2 linked regions of the Homo sapiens genome follow. Changing the gene in region 2 together with the main gene of any one other region gives a genetic interaction. Each region holds a gene or a part of one and is shown on either strand. Other genes may lie near its edges.

Region 1 (3,822 bases), about 12 Mb from region 2:
TTCAAGAATTCATCCTCTCTTACAATTGAGATTTCTCAGTTAAAAGTTTCCTGACCTCCCACTTTCTTTGCAGTTGTTCTGAACACTTACATATACCAGATACACGCCAAAAGTAGAAGAAAAAAAGTTAAAGAAAAGGCAGCATTAAATTTAGGCAAGGCTTCGAAGAGTTGATCATCTGGCAACATGGCAAACCGGATGGGTTCATTATAAAACAGGAAGTGCAGCATTACAACATGGGGGGAAAGGGCAAGGACAGGGAAGGGGTCACTAGTGAAGAGCCCATGTTAAGTTGATTTTAAAAAAGAAAGCAAGCAAGCTTCACACGATCTTCTTAATGCTATTACGTTTGAAACTGCCAGCGCTTCTTTGCTTCTGCACTTGGCTTGCGGATCCGTGGCGAGTTCGTCCACTGTTACAGTGGCCAGTGGTAGGGGAGAGTTCAACGTTCTCCTTGTCGATTCCTGGAGAAAAAGAGAACAGCCAGTTACTTCTTCTTTTCCTTCCAGGACTGAATTTCATTGCAGTCATGTGTCGCTTAACAACGGGGACACATTCTAGGAAACAATCATTAGGCGATTTTGTCTGTGCAAATATTGTGGAGTGTACTTACATGAACTTAGATAGCATAGCCTACTACACACCAAGGCTATATGGTATAGCCTGTTTCTCCCAGGCAACAAACCTGTACAGCAGGTTACCATATTGTGTACTTTATGTAGTTGTAACACAATGCTAACTATTTGTATATCTAACACAGAAAAGGTACAGTAAAAATACAGTATTATAATCTTTCGGGACCACTGTCTATATGTGTTCTGTTGTTGACTGCAATGTTGTTATGCAGCACATGACTATATTTGTGATAAGATACAACCTGGCAAATTGTTTATGCACATTTCATTTTAATAGTCAATTGCTAAAATGTTTACTAAGTTAATGTCACATGGAAAACTTCACATTTTGTTATGCAAAGTTTGCTATCATAGCAGAAAATAGCACAAGAAAAATGAAAAGACAAGTTGCAAGGAAAAGCTAGAGGCTGGCAGGCTTGAACTAAATGAAAGGCTAGCAGCCACCAGGGAAGACTAGTGCTCCTTCCTCCAAATCATACCAGAAACTTCCAGCAGAGGTCATCTTCTAGCCTTATTCACATCCTCATTCATGTTTATAAACAGAATATACTCTCCAGCAGCAGAAAGTACTGATCTTTCCAGCAAATTTGTCACTTCAAAGAAAACTCAAGATGCTTTTATTTTTTTAATCACAGTGCCTATCCCAAAGAAACTATTTACTGAGAAAATAATATATCACAAAGGTCATACTGTAGAATCTTTGCTTCTTTTCAGCTATGCCAAGTCATTTCACATTCTGCAACCTTAAACAGATGCCATTTATTTCTCTTGAGGAGGAGATTAAACCTCCAAAACCTGGGCCTAACAATGATTGATTATTTATTTAGAGACAGGGTCTTGCCCTGTTGCACAGGCTGCAGTGCAGTGGTGTGATCATAGCTCACTATAACCTTGAACTTCCAGGCTCAAGCTATCCTCTCGCCTCAGCCTCCCAAACAGCTAGGACTACAGGTGCATGCCACCATGCCCAGCTAATTTTAAAATTCTGTCTAGAGATAGAGTCTCACTATGTTGCCAAGGCTGGTCTTGAACTCCTGGTCTCAAGCAATCCTTCCATCTTGGCCTCTCAAAGTTCTGGGATTACAAGCATGAGCCACTGCACCCCACCCCAATTAATATTATAAATAATCTAAGCAGTAACTTCAGAAAAGTAACCAGAAACTAAAATAAGATTTTTATTTTTATCTATCACATTAGGAAAGATTACAAATTGGGTAACAGGACTGTGGTCACCCTTGCGGAAGTAGTGACTTAAGGGGGCATGAGGATGGCTTCTTGGGATGCTGGTAATGTTCTGTTTCTTGATGTAGATGATGGATTTTCAAGTGTGTTTACATTTTAAAAGTTCACTAAGCTGAAAACTTGCAATTTGTGAACTTTTCTGTTAAACATCAATAAAATTTACCCCCAAAATTAGACTGATTATACTTACTGCTGGCATAAATTTTGGCGGGAAAGCAAACAGCTGCAGAACGTTTTAGTAATTTGTATCAAAATGTACATTACTGATTGATATTTACTGATACAAAAAGATGACCACAATTTTTGGAGTAGGAAAAAAACACCCACACACTGTGGGGAGAGGGCGTAGGGCTGGGTAAACATCTGCCAAAATATTTTATCTCTGTCAGAAGCCAAAGGACTAAAAAATATATTTTACCTCTGTATGGCAAGATTTCAGCTAATTTGTACTTTATTCTTCTTTATATATTGAAATTTTAAATCTTAGAATAGAAAAATTTCCATTTTTGGACAAAAAGTAATATTTCAAGTCAAGAAGTATTCATTATGTTACAGAAAATGTACATAGATCTACCCAGTTAGTTATTTGTTGGCTCATGAACAGGAAATGAACTTGGGATGACCTCCCTCTAGGAGCCACTCATCTTTCATTTGGATTCAGCTCTGAATTCGACTCAAGAGTATCAGGCATCTGTAAGCACGTGGCCTGGTTTACACGTGCTCAACAGAGATTTGCTGTCTTGAAAATCTGAACTGCTGTCAAAGGAACATGGGCATTTGTCAGTGACTGTTTATGAACATGTGCACTGCATCAGGCATATGAGTGCAAGGAAAAACATCAGCGACATTTCTCCAGGAGGTGAGCATAGCTGAACCACCACTGAAAATCTGTTCTATTCAAATCTTTTTTAAAACCCTTATTAAATTTTTTAAGGCTAGTCATGTTCTAATCTAATCTAATCTAATCATATGCATAGAAAGATGACTAGAAACATTCATGGAACTTTTCTCTGGGTAACAGAATTCTGGTCTATTTAAATTCTCTTCTGTATATTTATTTGCATCCTCTCCAGAGCTATTTACAAAAGAAATAACAAAACTGAAAGAAAGCTGCTCATGATCTCTGGAATGTGCCTTGAGCTTCTTTGGGATGTATGTTTGTGTAGGCTCTTTTAATTGTCTTGCGTATCTCTACAAGATAAAATTCAACCCATATTTTTTTTTCTCATATCCTTTTCCTTCATGATGCATTATTCTGTCTCTTGCCAGAACTACTTTCTCCTTCCTTGCTTTTAAATTAACTTGCCTATGATTCTACAACTTGTACATCCATCTTCCTCTACTGAGTAAAGGCACTGAGAAGGGTAAAGATCATTATTATTCATTTTTGTTTTCCTGTAAAATCTAGTTATTTTTTCAATACATTGAAAAATTATTTTCAATTAATACTGAATGAACTGAACACTTCCATTTTAAAATGTGATAGCTAGATACCTGTAATTCAGAGCCCCAAAGCATGCAATCCCTGATCTCCAGAGAGTGGTATAATATTTTTAGTTGAAAAGATAGAACTTTTTTTTTTCCCTTTGGCATCCTCCACTTAAAATTATGAATTTGTCAGCGTATTTGACCTTCCATTTCCTCAAATTTGCATTTGGCCTACAAGTTTCAAGTCCAGTAATTCTGAGTTGTTTCTTTAATAGAAAATAAGATTCAGGCAAAACTAGGACCTTAAAAAGACAAAGGTTTGAAACAACTTGGAGCTGGCCCGCATGCAGGAGGGGCATGAAGCATGGATGACCACTAGGAAGGCCCTGTGACTCTCTGCCAGCAATCTGCTACCCTGGGGCTCGTTCTTGTGTGTCTTGCTACTACTAGACCATGGCCTACTCTGAGGGGAAAACAGTCATGACATGGGTGGCAATGCTTCTGTTTGGGCACAGTG
Region 2 (3,822 bases):
CTGAGGTGGGAGGATTGCCTGAGTTCAGGAGATGGAGACCAGCCTGGGCAACATGGTGAAACCCCGTCTCTACTAAAAATACAAAAACTAGCTGGATGTGGTGGCACACACCTGTAGTCCCAGCTATTCAGGAGGCTGAGGTGGGAGGATCCCAGGAGGTAGAGGTCACAATGAGCCGAGATTGCGCCACTGCACTCCAGGCTGGGTTACTGAGCCAGATCCTGTCTCAAAAAAAAAAAAGATAATACATTCAAACAGTTCAAAATGCAAAAGTTACATACATAAGGAAGTGTCATGAAATATCTCCCTCTCACACTTCTCCCCAGCCACCCAGTTCTCCCTTCTAGAGGCAACATGTGAAATCCTTCTCAGGCTACACTCTTCTTGAAGGTGTAGGCTTTGGGCAAAAGCATTCATTCAGTAACCCCAGAAACTTGTTCTGTTTTTCCATAGGATTCTCTTTGGACAGCGTCCATACTGGTGGGTTTTGGATACTGACTACTACAGCAACACTTCCGTGCCCCTGATAAAGCAGTTCCCTGTAACCTGTGAGACTGGACCAGGTAAGCGTCCCAGCCCCTGCAGACAGAAGCTGAGTGGACCTCGTTTACCTGTTATGGATGAAACTGACCTTGAGGGGACATGAGGAGAGCCATTCCTTTGTACTTTTGTCATGCTCTTCAATTGGCACAAATTAATTCACTTCTGCAATACTTTCCTGAATAGCACAGTAGTATTGGAAATCTGCCTATTACAGAACCTGGATGGAGTCCAGAGAGGCACGGGCATCCATGGGCAAAGGGCTCGTGAGAGTCACCGCCCTGCAGCGCTGTGTCCTGAGAAAGGAGGGGGCAGAAGCCTGAGCTTCTGGGGGTCCTTCCCAATGGCCTGGCCCACTGGATGTGCCCTCCTGAGCTGACCGTCCAATCCCTTGCCCTCTCTGTGCCTACGTTTTATTAGTTACAGCCAGATGGTTACTGTCAAATCAAATGATAGATTTCATTTTCAGTATGTAATAGGAAGCCCCTCCCTCACCCTAAAGTCTCAGCTGCCCTCTAAGACTAGTACTCTCTAAGGTACTAGTATCCCTTCCTCAGAGACCCTTTCCCTGACCCCAAAACTAGGGAAGGTCCCTTAGTTATTTGCTCTCACAGACCACGCATTTACCTCAGAGCATATTCACTCATTCAGCTGTTACTTACCAAGCACCTACTGGGAGCTATACACTGTTCTATGTGCTAGGGATACCTCTGTCAGTGAACAACACAGACACAAAGATCCCTGCCCTTGTGGAGCTGAAATCTGAATAGAGGAGGTGAAATATACAAAAATTATAATAAATAAGTAAACTAGGCCAGTTGTGGTTGCTCATGCCTGTAATCCCAGCACTTTGGGAAGCCAAGGTAGGTAGATCACCTGAGGTCAGGAGTTCAAAACCAGCCTGGCCAACATTGCAAAATCCTGTCTTTACTAAAAATGGAAAAATTGGTCAGGCGTGATGGCACACGCCTGTAGTCTCAGCTACCTGGGAGGCTGAGGCAGGAGAATCGCTTGAACCTGGGAGGCAGAGGTTGCAGTGAACCGAGATCGGACCACTGCACTCCAGCCTGAATGACAGAACGAGACTCTGTCTCAAAAAAAAAGTAAACTATTAATATGTAGGATAGGCCAGGCACGGTGGCTCACCCTGTAATCCCAGCACTTTGGGAGGCTGAGGCGGGTGGATCACCTGAGGTGAGGAGTTCAAGACCAGCCTGGCCAACATGGCAAAACCCTGTCTCTACTAAAAATACAAAAATTAGCTGGGTGTCCTGGTGCATGCCTGTAATCTGAGCTACTCAGGAGGCTAAGGCAGGAGAATCGCTTGAACCTGGGAGGTGGTGAGCCAAGATTGCGCCATTGCACTCCAGCCTGGGCGACAAAATGAGACACCATCTGAAAAAAAAAAAAAAATATATATATATATACACACACACACACACACACACACACACACACATATAATACTAGAAAATGATTGTTTATAGGCAAAAAAAAAAAAAAAGAAGAAGAAGAAGAAAAGGAAAGGAGAAGGAAAGAAGGACCAAACATCTTTTGTAGAAATATGTTTGCTTTCATCATAACAGCTTGTTATCAAGGATGAATTTCTCCCTGAAATTAATGGAGGCACAGACTGGAAAGTTTAAAGTGGCTTTAAGAGGTTATTTTATTTAGTCCTCTGTCTTAATAGAAGCAAATTATTATCTCTGCTCCTTAGGTAGAGTAGCTAAGGCTCAGAAAGTAGGCCGGGCGCGGTGGCTCACGCCTGTAATCCTAGCACTTTGGGAGGCCAACGCAGGTGGATCACCTGAGGTCAGGAGTTTGAGACCAGCCTGGCCAACATGGTGAAACCTCGTCACTAATAAAAAAATACAAAAACTTAGCCAGGCATGGTGGCGGGCGCCTGTAATCCCAGCTACCCAGGAGGCTGCGGCAGGAGAATCACTTCAACCCGGGAGGCAGAGGTTGCAGTGAGCTGAAATCACACCACTGCACTCCAGCCTTGGTGACAGAGAAAGATTCTGTCAGGAAAAAAAAAAAAAAGTTTAAATGAATTACCCAAGGTATATAATTGTTAGTGTTAGAAGGAAGAAGAAGGGAGGGAGGAAGGAAGGGAGAAAGAAAGGGAAGGAGGAAGGGAGGGAGGGAAGAAAGCCTTTATTTATCTATGGGGTTCCCTGGAAAGCAGGCTGAAATGGAGATTCACGTGCAGGAGTTTAGATACTCTGGGGAACTATACTTGTAGAAGGGAAGGAACAGGAACAGGGCAGAAGGAGAGGTCCGGTTGTGATTCTGCCTCATCCAACCCCACAGCGAGCTCTGAAGCTGGGGATGGCTCCTCAGAGTTGGTCCAAGTTGGGACAAGGGAATCAGACCCTGGGGAGAGCGTAACCTTGATCAAGGCGACTCTCTTTAGCCCAGGGCAATGCCAGGAGAAGGCTGAGAGCAGAAAGCCATCTACCATCACACTCTCAACAGCTACGAAATAAGTCCTGCAGTTCAGGAGGGAGGTCTGGGCGGCACATCTCAGGACCCTCTATCTCTCAGGGTAGAGGAATTAAGAATGGGATGGGAACCAGACGGGCCATGGTGGCTCACACCTATAATCCCAACACTTTGGGAGGCCAAGGGTAGGAGGATTGCTTGAGCCCAAGAGTTCAAAACCAGCCTGGGCAAAAACAATCAAACAAACAAACAAAACACATTTAAAAAATTTGCTGTGTGTGGTGGTGTGCACCTGTGGTCCCAGCTACTCAGGGGGCTGAGGTGGGAGGATTGCTTGAGTCCAGGAGGTCGAGGCTGCAGTGAGCTATGATCATGGCACTGCATTGCAGCCTAGGAGACAAAGCAAGACACTGTCTCTAAAAAAACAAAAAACAAACAAATAAAAAAACGGAACCGGTTGCAAGCAGGGTTAAATAGCGTGGTCAGAGTAGGACTCACTGAGAATATGAGATCTGAGTCAAGTCTTCAAGGATGTGAGGAAGTAAGTTTCTGGCAGAAGAGCTGTGAAGGGCTGTCTGGCCAGAGAAGATTGCAATGCAAAAGCCCTGAGGTGGGAACGTGTTTGGTGTGTTTAAAGGAAAGCAATGAGGCCAGTGTAGCCAGAACAGAGTGTGCAAGGAGAGAAGGAACAGAAGATGTGGAGGGCAGATCAGTTTGTAATTGTACGCCCAGTATGCTGATTCTTTGTGTAATCTCCAGACTGTATTAAACTGCAAGAGCAGGGCCCCTCTCTGGCTTTGCTCATCATTGTATTCCCAGAGCCTTGCACAATGCTTG

What was found.
Region 1: changes in G6PC1 (region 2) and NF1 together harm fitness more than expected from each alone (negative genetic interaction), as found in Homo sapiens cells (one large-scale study listed by BioGRID).

Annotation. Positions count from the first base shown.
Region 1 is NC_000017.11:31,370,655-31,374,476, reverse strand, and holds part of NF1 (neurofibromin), read right to left. Parts: intron 465-3,822; coding exon 322-464; 3' UTR 1-321. UniProt on the Homo sapiens protein: Stimulates the GTPase activity of Ras. NF1 shows greater affinity for Ras GAP, but lower specific activity. May be a regulator of Ras activity.
Region 2 is NC_000017.11:42,903,478-42,907,299, forward strand, and holds part of G6PC1 (glucose-6-phosphatase catalytic subunit 1), read left to right. Parts: intron 1-453; coding exon 454-563; intron 564-3,822.